Linked DNA regions of Homo sapiens. The protein of the gene in region 1 interacts with the protein of each later gene in a biochemical or structural test. Each region holds a gene or a part of one and is shown on either strand. Other genes may lie near its edges.

Evidence for each region. Proteins that work in one complex are often made in the same cells at the same time.
Region 2: the proteins of SKP2 (region 1) and MEF2D form a complex in vitro, tested with the Homo sapiens proteins (one study listed by BioGRID).
Region 3: of the proteins of SKP2 (region 1) and CDC14B, one has a biochemical effect on the other in vitro, tested with the Homo sapiens proteins (one study listed by BioGRID).

What each region holds. Positions count from the first base shown.
Region 1 is NC_000005.10:36,171,578-36,176,762, forward strand, and holds part of SKP2 (S-phase kinase-associated protein 2), read left to right. Parts: intron 1-25; coding exon 26-156; intron 157-5,185. UniProt on the Homo sapiens protein: Substrate recognition component of a SCF (SKP1-CUL1-F-box protein) E3 ubiquitin-protein ligase complex which mediates the ubiquitination and subsequent proteasomal degradation of target proteins involved in cell cycle progression, signal transduction and transcription.
Region 2 is NC_000001.11:156,497,976-156,502,017, forward strand, and holds the start of MEF2D (myocyte-specific enhancer factor 2D), read right to left. Parts: upstream 2,801-4,042; 5' UTR 2,511-2,800; intron 1,906-2,510; exon of another isoform or gene 1,457-1,905; intron 126-1,456; exon of another isoform or gene 1-125. UniProt on the Homo sapiens protein: Transcriptional activator which binds specifically to the MEF2 element, 5'-YTA[AT](4)TAR-3', found in numerous muscle-specific, growth factor- and stress-induced genes.
Region 3 is NC_000009.12:96,518,844-96,522,343, forward strand, and holds part of CDC14B (dual specificity protein phosphatase CDC14B), read right to left. Parts: intron 1-3,500.

The sequences.
Region 1 (5,185 bases):
TGTTTATTACCCCTCTTTTGTGCAGACTGGATGAGCTGAACCTCTCCTGGTGTTTTGATTTCACTGAAAAGCATGTACAGGTGGCTGTTGCGCATGTGTCAGAGACCATCACCCAGCTGAATCTTAGCGGCTACAGAAAGAATCTCCAGAAATCAGGTTAGAGCTTCCAAGCCTGGACCACTGAGGCCTTCACAACATAATAGATGAGATTCATTGAGCTTCTCCTAATCATTCCTCCACATAAGTTTTCTCATTTAATCCAGTGCATGTGTTAGTCCCCTTTTTCAGATGAGGTAGCTGCTAATCAGAATGGTTAGGTAAAGGTAAACAGCTAGTGAGCTAGAGCCAAGGTTTGAATTCAGGATCTAACAGTAGAAACCTTTACACTTGAAAACAATGTATTTTTAAGCAGAAAAACTTTTAATCAACTAAATGGTTAGGTAAACCCCAACATAAAAATACATAAATGTAGCATTTGATTAGTATTAAGTAGTGGTTGTTCATTAGGGGCTATTTTGTCTGTACGGGGACATTTGTCAATGTCTGGAGACATTTTTTATTGTCACAGCTGTAGGAGTGCTGATGGTCTCTCATGGGCGGAAGCCAGGATGCTGGTGGACGGTGTATAGGATGGAGAATAGCATGCACAATAATCTGGTCCAAACATCAGTTCCAAGGTTGAAAAACTATTATAAACTCTGTTAATAAGTTCATATTTATGACTTTTACTTTTTATTCAGTCCAAGAGGGCAACGAGGATTTTTAGATGAAAACAGGCATTAGAAGTCAAAGGTAGCAGGGAGCAGTCTTTAAAAACCTTAATATTCAGTTACGCTTTATTTTACTTGTATGTTAATGAGAAAATCTTGATTTGCAAAGATAAGTGATTACAAATGGCAAGTTTTTTAAATGGCTTCACCGTCTCAGGCCAACATTCAGTTTGTGGGCTCTACAAAACCTAGTTAAACCAGCAACACACATCAACCATATCTTGATGTTAGTACTAGCTTATTTGAGTGTGTTTTGTTTATTATAGTTTTTATTATTCTGAAAAAGATTTGAATCAAACATCTGCAGAATAGATCTTAAAATTTAAGTAGTATAAAACTACTGCTCCAGGACAGATGTCCTCTGGTAAGATGTATAAAGCTATAGAAAATAATTGCTAGGATCTCATGAGTGGGTAGAAATTCGAGTCTTTCACCTGTGCAAGGACTCAAATTTGGACTACTGCCATTCCAAACACTTGCATTTTCAGACAAGGTGAACACTTTCTTTAGCAAGCTGTAAAAGCAGCAATCATGTCTTCATTTCATACCACTCTCCCCACCCAGTATTTATAATTACTATTTTAAAACTGATCATAGTGTTATACAGTCATTTAAAAAAAATGTAAAATACAGAAAAACACAAAGGGAAGCAAATTATCAATAATCTTAACATCTTGCTAGGCTTTTTCCTGTACAAAAACTGTTTTTTTTTTTAATGGGACATGGTATATTAAATACTTCGTAATATGCTTTTTAACCCCATTTTCAGTGACTACATGATGTCATCATCAGTGGCTATGTGATAGTCCATCAAATAGATATGCAATAATTTATATTAAGTCAATAACAATATATGCAGTTGATCAGAATTCTAATGGACTTTCAGAATCTTCCCAGTTTTTCTCTCCTATAAACAATTTTATGAGTGACAGAGACAAATCTTTAGATGCATTTCTAAGGATAGATTCTTAAAAGTGGAATTGCTGGGTCCAGCATTAAGTACTATTCTCAAGTTTTGGATAGTTTCTGCCAAATTTTCCTCCAAGAAGTTTAAACTCTTCACCCACGAGCATCCTCTTAGTGTGAAATCCCATCACTCTTGGTTCTTCTCTGTCTGCAGGTGAAGGGAAGGCAGTGCCTTGTTTATATTTCTTTCCCACATCTGGATCTTTCACTGGTTTACTGAAAGATTTTCTGACATGAATCGAGGCTCTGGGTGCAAGGTTGAGAAACTGCTGTAGGCAAAGTGCTGTTGGTTTTGTCCAAATTTGGCTTAAAATCTTTCCCTTTGTTCCTCCAAGAAAGAACAGAGAGCCTGTTTACCGAGTTTTGGCAGAAATAGTAGGTATTAAAATGCTGCTTGCTAGACACATTCAGGACAGAGAGACAGACTGTAAATTGAAGTGTTAGTTTTTTAATTATACCATGGGGATAAAAAGTTTTTAATGTCATTAACAATAGCACACACCATTTCATTATATATGAGATAATATGGATTTGGTTTTAGCTCATAGACTGGTACCAGATGGCCTGGGTTCAAATATCCACTCTGCCATTTACTGGGTAGACTTGAGCAAGTTGCTAAACTTGCCTGTTCCTTAGTTTTCTCAGCAGTAAAATGGAGATAAGTAGAACCCATCTCTTAGAGTTACAGGAAAGAATAAATGAGTTAAGACATGTACAGCATGTGGAACATTTCTTGCCACATGGTAAGAGTTCAATTAGTGTTGGCTGTTAATACTGTTCCTTCCCCCACTACCCCCATCACTACCTTTCCATGGAGCAATGGATGAAGCACAGAAACATTTGGTCTTGGATTTGACCTTGACTTCTGTAGCTGAAATCATCTCTCCTTTGAAGTAACGGGTTGGATTAACGGGTGGTTTCTAAGATCCTTCTAGCTCAGGTTGGGTCTACTGTTTATGGTGAAATGAAGGGGACAGTGAAAAGGAAACCTTGGCAGTGACTACTGTTTACTAACTACTTCCTGCCCAGGGAGGACAGAGCTTAAGTGTGGGCCAGAGGAAACTAACCCTTTATCCCCCAATGTTTCGTTCTTTCTCCAGTGGTGTCAAAGTATGATTGCATCAGATTTTGCTGATGGCTAGTTGGCTGGCTAGATGATTGGTCCCTCAAAATTTTATTGTGTACTTTTTTCATTTTTTGGTCATTTATTAAATATTTATTGAGCACCTACAGTGATTGAACAAAACAGAGCCTTGAACAAAACAGAGAAAGTCACTCTTATGAAGATTACTTTCTAGTGGGGGAGCCAGAAAGTGAACATATTTCATAAATGTTATGAAAGGAGGTAAAAATGCAAGGACGAAGAGCAAAGCAGAGTAACCAGATAGAATGTGGCAGAAAGAGGACTACTTTTAGATGGAATGGTTAAAGACAGGGCCTCTCTGAGGAGACTGTACTGGACCCAGAGAACTGACTGAGTGAAGAAGGAATCCATATGCATATGTGAGAGAAGAACATTCAAGAACAAAGGACCAGTGAGTGCAAATACCTTGATATGGAACCAATGTGTGAGAGGGAGCAGGGAGAACAGTGAGAGGAGAAAGATGGCCAAGGGCTGTCTAAGCCAAGGCAAAAGCTTTGAATTTTTCCTAAGTGACATGGGATATGGGAAGCCATTGGAGTATTTCGAGCAGAGCAATATGACTGACTTCATTTTAAAAGACTCACGCTAGTGCTGTGTTGAGAAAAGGCTGTAGCGGGGAAGTATGAAGCAGGGAGACCAGTTAGCAGACTAGGCTGGTGACACTTAAGGTGGTAAGAAATGATCAGATTTGGGCACATTTTAAAAACCAACATCATGAGATTTGGTGACACAATGAACGTGGGATGTGAGAAAAATAGTCCACTATGATTTCAAGGGTTTTGGCTGAAGCCACTGGATTCGTGAAATTATCACTTGCTGAGATGGGAAAGAGTTTAGGGAAGGAGGAAATTTGGGGGAGAAATTGAGTATTTGATTTTAGACATAAATTTAGAGGCCTATCTCATATCCAAACGGTATGTTGAGGAGGCAGTTGAAAATGCAAGTCCAGAATTTAGGAGAGGGGATATACTTGTGAGACGAAAAAACCCTCAAATGTTAATGAAGTTTGCCTGTTGTTCTAAATAAGTAACATTTATTGATTCATTTTCTGATTGCCAAGTAGCTTACATGACTTTCTTCCAAATTCTGAAAAGTTGCCTGTAATCCAAACACCCTTGAATACTGCAGTTAACATTTTGGATGTATTTCCTTGCAGCCTTTTTTTTTTCTTCTCTCTTTCTTTCTGTGTATGTGTTTGTGTGTAAATGTGAGTTTGAGTGTGTTTTGACCAAGTTGAAATTATAACGCATTGTATATATTTTGTTTACAAGCTATCCTAGTATTTTTTTAAATGTATGAAATGTTATCAGAAAGCGTTTTCATAATGATTAGCAGTGTATTTCACGGAATGGATGAGGTTAACATATTAAACTAACTGGAGGAGGGGCTAATATAACTGTTGCCACATTGAATATATTCATACACATCTATATTTTTCTAAAAGTGGAATTACTGGGCCAAAAGTAAACTGTATAATTCTCTGAATTCTTTAAAAAAAAAAGAAAATCAGTTCACTATCCAAAAAAAGCAGGAATCAGTTCACTATCCAAAAAACGCAGGGTTCAGGCTCCTGAAAGCCTGCAAATAAAATTAAATATCTACCTGTGGTACATGGAAGACCTACTTTATGGTAGACCTACTTTATAATAGAATTTTTTTTCACTTGATGGCTGAGAAGAAATATTTCTAATTTTATTTGGTATTTCTTGCTCCTTTTTATTATCTTGGTATTTTGCAATGTAGATTTGTTCATGTTCATTGCCTATTTTTGATTTATCTTTTTTCTCTTTATATAAGATTAACTCACTGTTTAATATATGTTGAAAACATTCCCAGTTTTCTGATACTTTTTAAATTGTTTTAATATGGTAGTTTTAAAATTTTATGTAGTAAATTTATGTGTTCCCTATGTTTTCTTTTATGTTTAGAAATACCTTATACCAAGATTCAATTAAATAATTACCCTGAATTATTTATTTAGTAATTTTTAATATTTAATATATTATTACCCTAAATACAAAAATATTATTTTTGTATTTAGAACTTATTATGTGGAATGTATTTAAATATGTTATTTGAGTTGGAGAAATATTTTTTTCCAGTTGTAGTGGCAATATTTCTTTTTACTGATCCATTATTTCTCTTGTTGATCTGAGGTGCTACCTTTGTAATATATTGTTTGCTTATATATACTGGTGTTTAATTTTACTTTTTGCTTTTGTGAATGGGATTTTTTTCCCTATTATTTTTCCAGCCTGCTATTGCTGATACATAGATAAGCTAAAGATTGTCATTTTACACAGTT
Region 2 (4,042 bases), on another chromosome or scaffold:
CAAGGCCTCCTCGGGGGCCAAGGCACCTCCCACTCCAAGCTTCCTTACTACTGCTCCTTTAGCTCCCCCCAACCTGAAGAGTCTCCCTCTGGCTTCTCTTCCCTATCACATCTCCCAGGAAAGATTAAAAAAAAAAAAAAAAAAAAAAAAAACCCTGCTACAGAGAGATTATATAACAGCAGCCAGAAAGACTATCATATCTCCCAGCCTATGAGAAGAACCAGGAGCCAAGGGGGCAGAGCCAGGATGCCCAGGCCCTCCAGCCCAGGGGCACCAAGCACAGAGTGGGGTGGACACGGACAGCACCTGCCACCCCTCCAAGTCCTCCACCAATCTTTCAGGCATTGAGTACAGCAGACAGAAGCTCTAGCCAATTCCCCATGCCCATCCCCCAACACAAGGATCATGAGGCTCTCTGGGTCCTGCTTCTTCCCTTGGACTGGGGCTTCCATGAACACGGACTGTATGTCTCCCTTCCCAGAATCCCTCCCTACTATGAAGTTGTGCCTAAAAGAGTGGAAAGACGAAAGCTCTGACACAGATTTGCTGTGTGATCTCAGGTAAAAAACTCAACCTTTTGGGTCCCTACAGGGGTGAGTAAAAGCTCCTCCCTTCCTCCCTTCCCCCCTCCCCCCCTTCCCCCCAGAGAGACCAGAGACCTCTCCCTTTACAAATGTACATGCACACACATACATATACACACATATGCAAACATACAGGGTGTGTTGGCGGGGGCAGGGGAGTTACAACAAAGAGAATATAATCACTGAGACCCAAAGGTCCAAATGCCTATGCTGGGGCAAGTGGGGAAGGAGCTCCATATAAGCTCCAGTGTCCCCCAATCACCCCGTATAAAGAGGTCCTCAGCCACTCCCACAATAGTCCTACCCCACCCCCATCTCCTGCCCAACACACTGGGAAACCACAGGAAGGAAATTCATTCCCAGGCAGGGCCGTGGGAGCTGGGACAGCCAGACTAAGTCCTGGGGCGGGTGTGACCCCGTGGCCACAAGCGGGTGGACATCTGTGAACACTGACATGTGCCTTTTCAATGCTCTCCTCAGCTACTGAGACCTTCCTGTTGGGGTTGGGAGAGGAGTGGGAGGTGGACAGCTCCCAAACGCCAAAACACCCAATCTCAGGCTGACCTGCGCTCCCCTCCTATCTCCAGGCCAGAGCAGCCCAAGGTCACCGCCCCAGACGGCAAACTTCCCATAGTCTAGGCTGGACCCTGAATTGCTGCGGAGACCCACTGAAGGGATAGGAGGAGGAGTGGATAAGGGCCACCTCCACCCCAAAGCAAAGAAACCAGGACTCTGAGGAAAACTCAAATGGGGGTTGGGCACAGCAAAGAGGGACACAGGATCCCCCCCAACCCGCTATACCCTCCCCCAACCCATCAACAATGCACCAAGCAATGGGAGGCAGAGGGAGGCTCCCATTCAGAAGGGCAAACCTGGGATAACCCGGTCGGTGGCTTCTAGAGTGCCTTCCTTTCAGGAGGAGTCCTCGGAAGGCTGCTGAGAGGACAGCGTGATTCACTAGGGGGAGGGGGCCCCTTTCCCCATCCCCCTAAGACCCGAACCTGGTAGGAGAGAAGCTGGCATTGGAGTGGGGGACTAAAAGCATTTTGGTCTCCTTGGCCCATCCTCCCAAAAGCCCCCCCAAACTCCCTAAACCCCCGCTCGCAGCCCAGCTCCGCCTGCCATAGGTGGAAAGGACTAGAGAACTCTTGCCCAGATGTTGAACAGCTGCAAACTTCTGGCCAGGGAGTTCTCCAGTTGGGGTTACTGACAAACCACATCAGGGGTCTCGGAAGCGGGGCTAGGAGGTCTCAAGGAAGGGTCCTGCGTGCCCACCTCGTGGCGACTCCGCGTCCCAACTCCACAGGCACCCGGCAAACACGGGCCCCGGAGACACACACACTCACACACCCCAACCCACTACCCCGGTGTCATCTGAACAACATCCCCCCTCCCTCCCCCGCTTCCCAAACAGCTGCGGCTCCCCCCGCCTCCACCCTCCCGCCGCCCTCCCAGGCCCCCTTCTGCACCATTTCGGGCCAAGGAGGAGGGAACAGGCGGCGAGAGGAGGGAGAGGGAGGGAGGGCCGGCTGTTAAAATGTCAGTCGCTCCCGACTGTCACCGGAGACCCCCTCGGAGGATGGCGCCCCGTCCCAGACCGCTCGGAGGCCGTCGTAAACCCCCTACACGAACAGGCGGGCGCGCCCCCAATCCGCCCGTCCCCACCCCGTACTCCCAACACCCAAGGGAATTGCAGCCCACTCCACTTGTCCCCCACGACAGACTCCCTGACACAAACAGTCCCCTAGGTAATCCCCGCCAACGCCACACGAAAACACGGCCCGCTTCGCGAGTTCCTCCCGGCCCGGGGGCTGCCCCATCCCACCCCTCAGGGGGACGGTCTAGACCACCCTCCACCCCAACCCCTGGACCGGGTGGGGGAGGGGGCCTCTTAAAGTGGCAGGCGCATTATTTTTCTCTACTCACCAGCCCGGCTGGGGGAACGGTGTTGTCACGGCAAAGAGCGGGTAGCCCTCGCCCCTGGTCCGGGGGATCTTCAACACCGGGAAGCCGCAGCTCCGGGCGGGGAGAATAATAAATGAGGCCGGCGTCCGCGCGGGCCCTGGGCGGCGCCGTGAGGCCTGGGCCCCCGTCGTGGGCGCGGGGGCCAGCAGGCGGGCGGCAGGCAAGCGGGGAACCGGGGCCGAGCGCCTGAGCCGCCTCGGCTGTTGTTGATATTTTGCTTCCTTCCTCCTTTCGGGCTCCAAAGGTAACTCCTCCAGCCCCCGGGAGTCGAGGCCGACGTAGGCACAGCTCAGCCTAGCTTGAGGGGTGGGGGGAAAGGGGTGACGGACAGGCGTGGGGGCCAATGGGAGGCACCTGTGGGGGTGGCGGGGCGGAGCCGGGGCTGGGGCGGTCCCGAGGACGCGGCCCCGCCCCTCGCTTCCCCAGGGCTGGCCGGGCCAGGCCGGGTCGGCCCCCACCCCACCGCCCTCCCAAGCTAGGCTGCGGCGCTGGGAGCGGCGGATCCCTCCGCCTGCCGGGAGGGAGGGAGGAAGGGACGAAGCGAGGCAAAGTAGGGAGGCGAGACCCAGAGGCCTTTAAAGGGATCGGTCCGCTCCCACGGTGCCCCTCGGAGCACGCCGGCCGCCCGCCCGCCCGCCTGGCGCTGCTGCCACCGCGTGCTCCAGGAGGTCCTTTCCGGGGAGGCCGTGCGAGCTGCACGCACACTCTCAACACGCGCCACCTCGGCACCTCCTCGCGGCCCCGGGCCCCAGGAGAGTTGGGAGGTGGGAGTCTAAGTAGATAAATTAAGGGGAGACTGGAAGTGGTGAAAAGCTCCCATCTCCCCCACTTGGTGTGTGACAAAGCCCCACTCACGGGCGACATTCTTGGGGTTGGGGGGTGTTACCTAGGGAGCTCAGTTGCTCCCTCTACCTGTGACAGGCCCCCTCCGGTCCCAGGGCCCGGCTCGGCAGACGCCCAGCAATTTAAAGCGACAGCTCATAGTTCTTGGGTGACCTAATCTCCAGTGCTTGCGGGGCCCCACAGCACTTACTGCCGAGGGGGCAATTTAAAGGGGCGGGACCCTAATTCCTCCCCACCTCCCGCCGCACAGTAAACACCCAGAAATGTCTTATTAAAGAAGCAGTAGTAGCTCTTTAAAATTTTTTATTTTTATATTCCTGGTTGCTCCAGGGTGTGGTGAATATTTACGTGCCCTACAACAGGAGTGTGGGTGCCATGCCTACTGGACAACTGACCCGTCAGGCTTCAGCATCCCTGTTACTTCCAAGTCCTGCTGCTTTCTCCCAAGAGCGTAAGGAAATGATGGCATCTGGCTTAGATCTCAAAGAACCTTGCAGAACAGAAGGGCACTCACTCAGTTCTTCACACACCCCGAATTTTTTTTTTTTTTTTTTTGAGACGGAGTCTTTCTTCGTCGCCCAGGCTGGAGTGCAGTGGCGCGATCTTGGCTCACTGCAACTTCCGCCTCCCAGGTTCAAGCGATTCTCCTG
Region 3 (3,500 bases), on another chromosome or scaffold:
AATTATTTTCCGGCCGGGTGCAGTGGCTCACACCTGTAATCCCAGCACTTTGGGAGGCCAAGGTGGGCAGATCACGAGGTCAGGAGATCGAGACCATCCTGGCTAACACAGTGAAACCCTGTCTCTACTAAAAATACAAAAATTTAGCCGGGCGTGGTGGTGGGCGCCTGTATTCCCAGCTACTTGGGAGGCTGAGGCAGGAGAATGGCATGATCCCAGGAGGCGGAGCTTGCAGTGAGCCGAGATCGCACCACTTTACTCCAGCCTGGGCGACAGGGCGATACTCTGTCTCAAAAATAAAAATAAAAAATAAAAATAAAAAAAGAATTATTTTCCATTGCTAACAGATATACTCATCTCCAAACCTACCAAAACCATCAGTATGCAGAACGACAGGCCTCATGGCTCAAGTTATGCAATCTACCAAATCCATTTTAGCACAGACAATATACTTGTCATCACGTCCTGAAGATCAGCTCAATGTCATGGTGCCACATGGTTTCCTGTCATCATTGTAGTCAGGATCAGACAGGCTGAGCAAATGGCCATTTTATAATCACTAAAAACTTAAACTCTCCCCCAAAACTGACCATTTATAAAAGAGAAACCGGCCAGGCGCCGGTGGTTCATGCCTGTAATCCTAGCACTTTGGGAGGCTGAGGTGGGTGTACCACTTGAGGTCAGGATTTCGAGACCAGCCTGGCCAACATGGTGAAACCTTGTCTCTACTAAAAATACAAAAAATTAGCTGGGTGTGGTGGTGCATAATCCCAGATACTCCGGAGGCTCAGGCAGCAGAATCACTTGAACCTGGGAGGCAGAGGTTGCAGTGAGCCGAGGGCACACCATTGCACTCCAGCCCGGCCAACAGAGCAAGACTCTGTCTTAAAAAAAAAAAAAAAAAAAAAAAGAGAAACCAATCATTGGAATAATATTTTATGTACTATAACCTTCTCCTAAGAATCACTAGTACTTGTGTATTTCTCACTAACTTTCCTTCTTGCATGTACTGTATTTTCATAAGGCTAAGTGCCAATGCTAAAGCAAAATAACTTGCTCACAGAAATCAATGAGTCAAACTTGGATGAAGAAATTGATTTTGTATTTTTCAACCCAAGCAACTGTTGAGAACAGTCCCTCAGGGACTTCTATTCCTAAAATAACAACATAGACACAAGAGGGAAAGAAAGAAAATCTTCAATTGATCTTTTCTAGGGCCAAAAAACTGCAAATAATAGCAGAGAGGGTTTGAAAAAGCAGAGACGGGGATAAGCAAAATGTTGTAAGGGAGGAGGAAGGAGATTTGCTGAGACTCATCAAAAATCCCCTCGGGTCTATACACATAACTCAGAGCTTAGAAAAACTAGCATTTCGCTTTCTTCTTTAAAAGTGTGGCCTAAAACTTTGTTATTTGTGTTATGTGGGGCTATTTATATATATTGTTTTTGGGATATTACCAAAAGGAATCCTGAGCTACCTCTTTGTTTTTTAACTTTTACCATTGTACTTGATTTTACTTATTTATTTAGACAGGGTCTCACTCTGTCACCCAGGCTGGATGCAGTGATCATGGCTCACTGCAGCCTCAGACTCCTGGGCTCAAGTAGTCCTGTTGCCTCAGCCTCCCGCATAGCCTGGTCTACAGGTGCGCACAGCCACGCCCAGCTAGATTTGAACTCACGTTAATGAGAGTAGCAGATTCAGAGGGTGACTAAAGGAAATTTCCTATTTAACAAAAACTTTTGACTAAGCAGGATTTGTATCCCCTGACTCTCAACTTGACTTTTGAACAGCAGGCAACAAAATATTAAAACATAAACTGATGATGCTGATTCTGAAAAACAAAACAAAAAATCCCAGACACAGCTAAAATCAACCCACAAAAGCATCAGTTTCCTAGGGCTTGCAATTCAATGTGTGGTCCCTGGACCAGCAGCCTCGGATAGAAATGTGAACTCTTGGGCCCCACCCCCACCCCACCAATCATAACCCATATTTCAACAAGCGCCCGGGTGCCTCCTGCACACTGAAGTCTGAGAAGCACTGCTCGAGGGTGCTGCCTGCCTCCTCCACCACATCCAGAATTAGTATCTGGATGATTACCTGGAGCCACCATAATACTTCCAAAGAAAAACCATTAAGGCCTTAGGTGAAGACTTTTAATAAGGAAATTAAAAACAAAATGGCATTTGGAGTTAAGTAAATTATACAAAGGCACTATTTTTGTTTGTTTGTTTGTTTTTTGAGATAGAGTCTCACTCTGTCACCCAGGCTGGAGTGCAATGGCACGATCTCGGCTCAATGCAATCTCTGCCTCCCGGGTTCAAGCGATCCTCCTGCCTCACCCTCCCGAGTAGCTGGGATCCTATAATGCCTACAGCTCCCACCATCATGCCCGGCTAGTTTTTGTATTTTTGTAGAGACGGGGTTTCACCATATTGGCCAGGCTGGTCTTGAACTCCTGACCTCAGGTGATCTGCCCACCTTGGCCTCCCAAAGTGCTGGGATTACAGGCATGAGCCACCACACCTGGCCAAAAGGCACCATTTTTAAAAAAGTATAGTTGACTAAAGTACCACTAAGTTGCAAAAGAAATGCTTAATAAATGCCTATAATCAAAATGGATGCCCTACATTCATTCACATAACACTGCATATTGTAAAACTCAATTCTTTGCCTTGGGTCTTTTAAGAAGAACCTCCCAGGGGAGCAACCCATAATGACACATGCCTTAGGTGTAATTCTACTTCAGAATTTTTATGACGAGACACTAGTGAGGAATTACTTTTAATTGAAAAGAAAACCTGTTCTCTGCCAATATAAATGGTATATTATATCATACTTCCTTACCATATTACAAGATGCTTACTGAATAAATGATCTATGTCCATCACACTCCCTCCCCGCAAAAAAGAAGGCTGGAAATCTGGTGTCCCACAATGAAAAAGGAAGTAACTAGAAGGAAGAAATCCAATGGCAACAAGTGGGAGCATTTACTAAAGAACAGCCTACAAAAAATACCATGGTCATGTACTTTGCTTCTGCATATTTTTCTAACAATCTTGGATGCTCCATCAGGTTGAATCCCAACTAACACACATTCACAAGAATGTACACATAGACATACATACACTCAGTACTACAACATTTCCTATTCTCAGGCTAAATCTTCCTCTATAATTAGAAAATCATTCCCCAAAGAAACAAACGAAAAACCCAAAATATAGTTTAGACCAGTTCATTGTTGCCCCAAAACAACATAATGTCATTAAGCCATCATGTCATGCTTATCAAAACAAATGATCTGCAACATGGCAAATGTAAAGAAATACACCACTTTAGTAACTATGGACAAGTCTGGCATCCTGGGCTTTACATCTGCTGTCGCGCTCCTGAGGATGCCCCATGCTGATTATTCATGGAGAAAAAGTATCCCTGATGTCGCCTTCCCACCCATAAAGGCTCATGAGGACCAAGGTAAACAAGGGACAGCTGAGAGC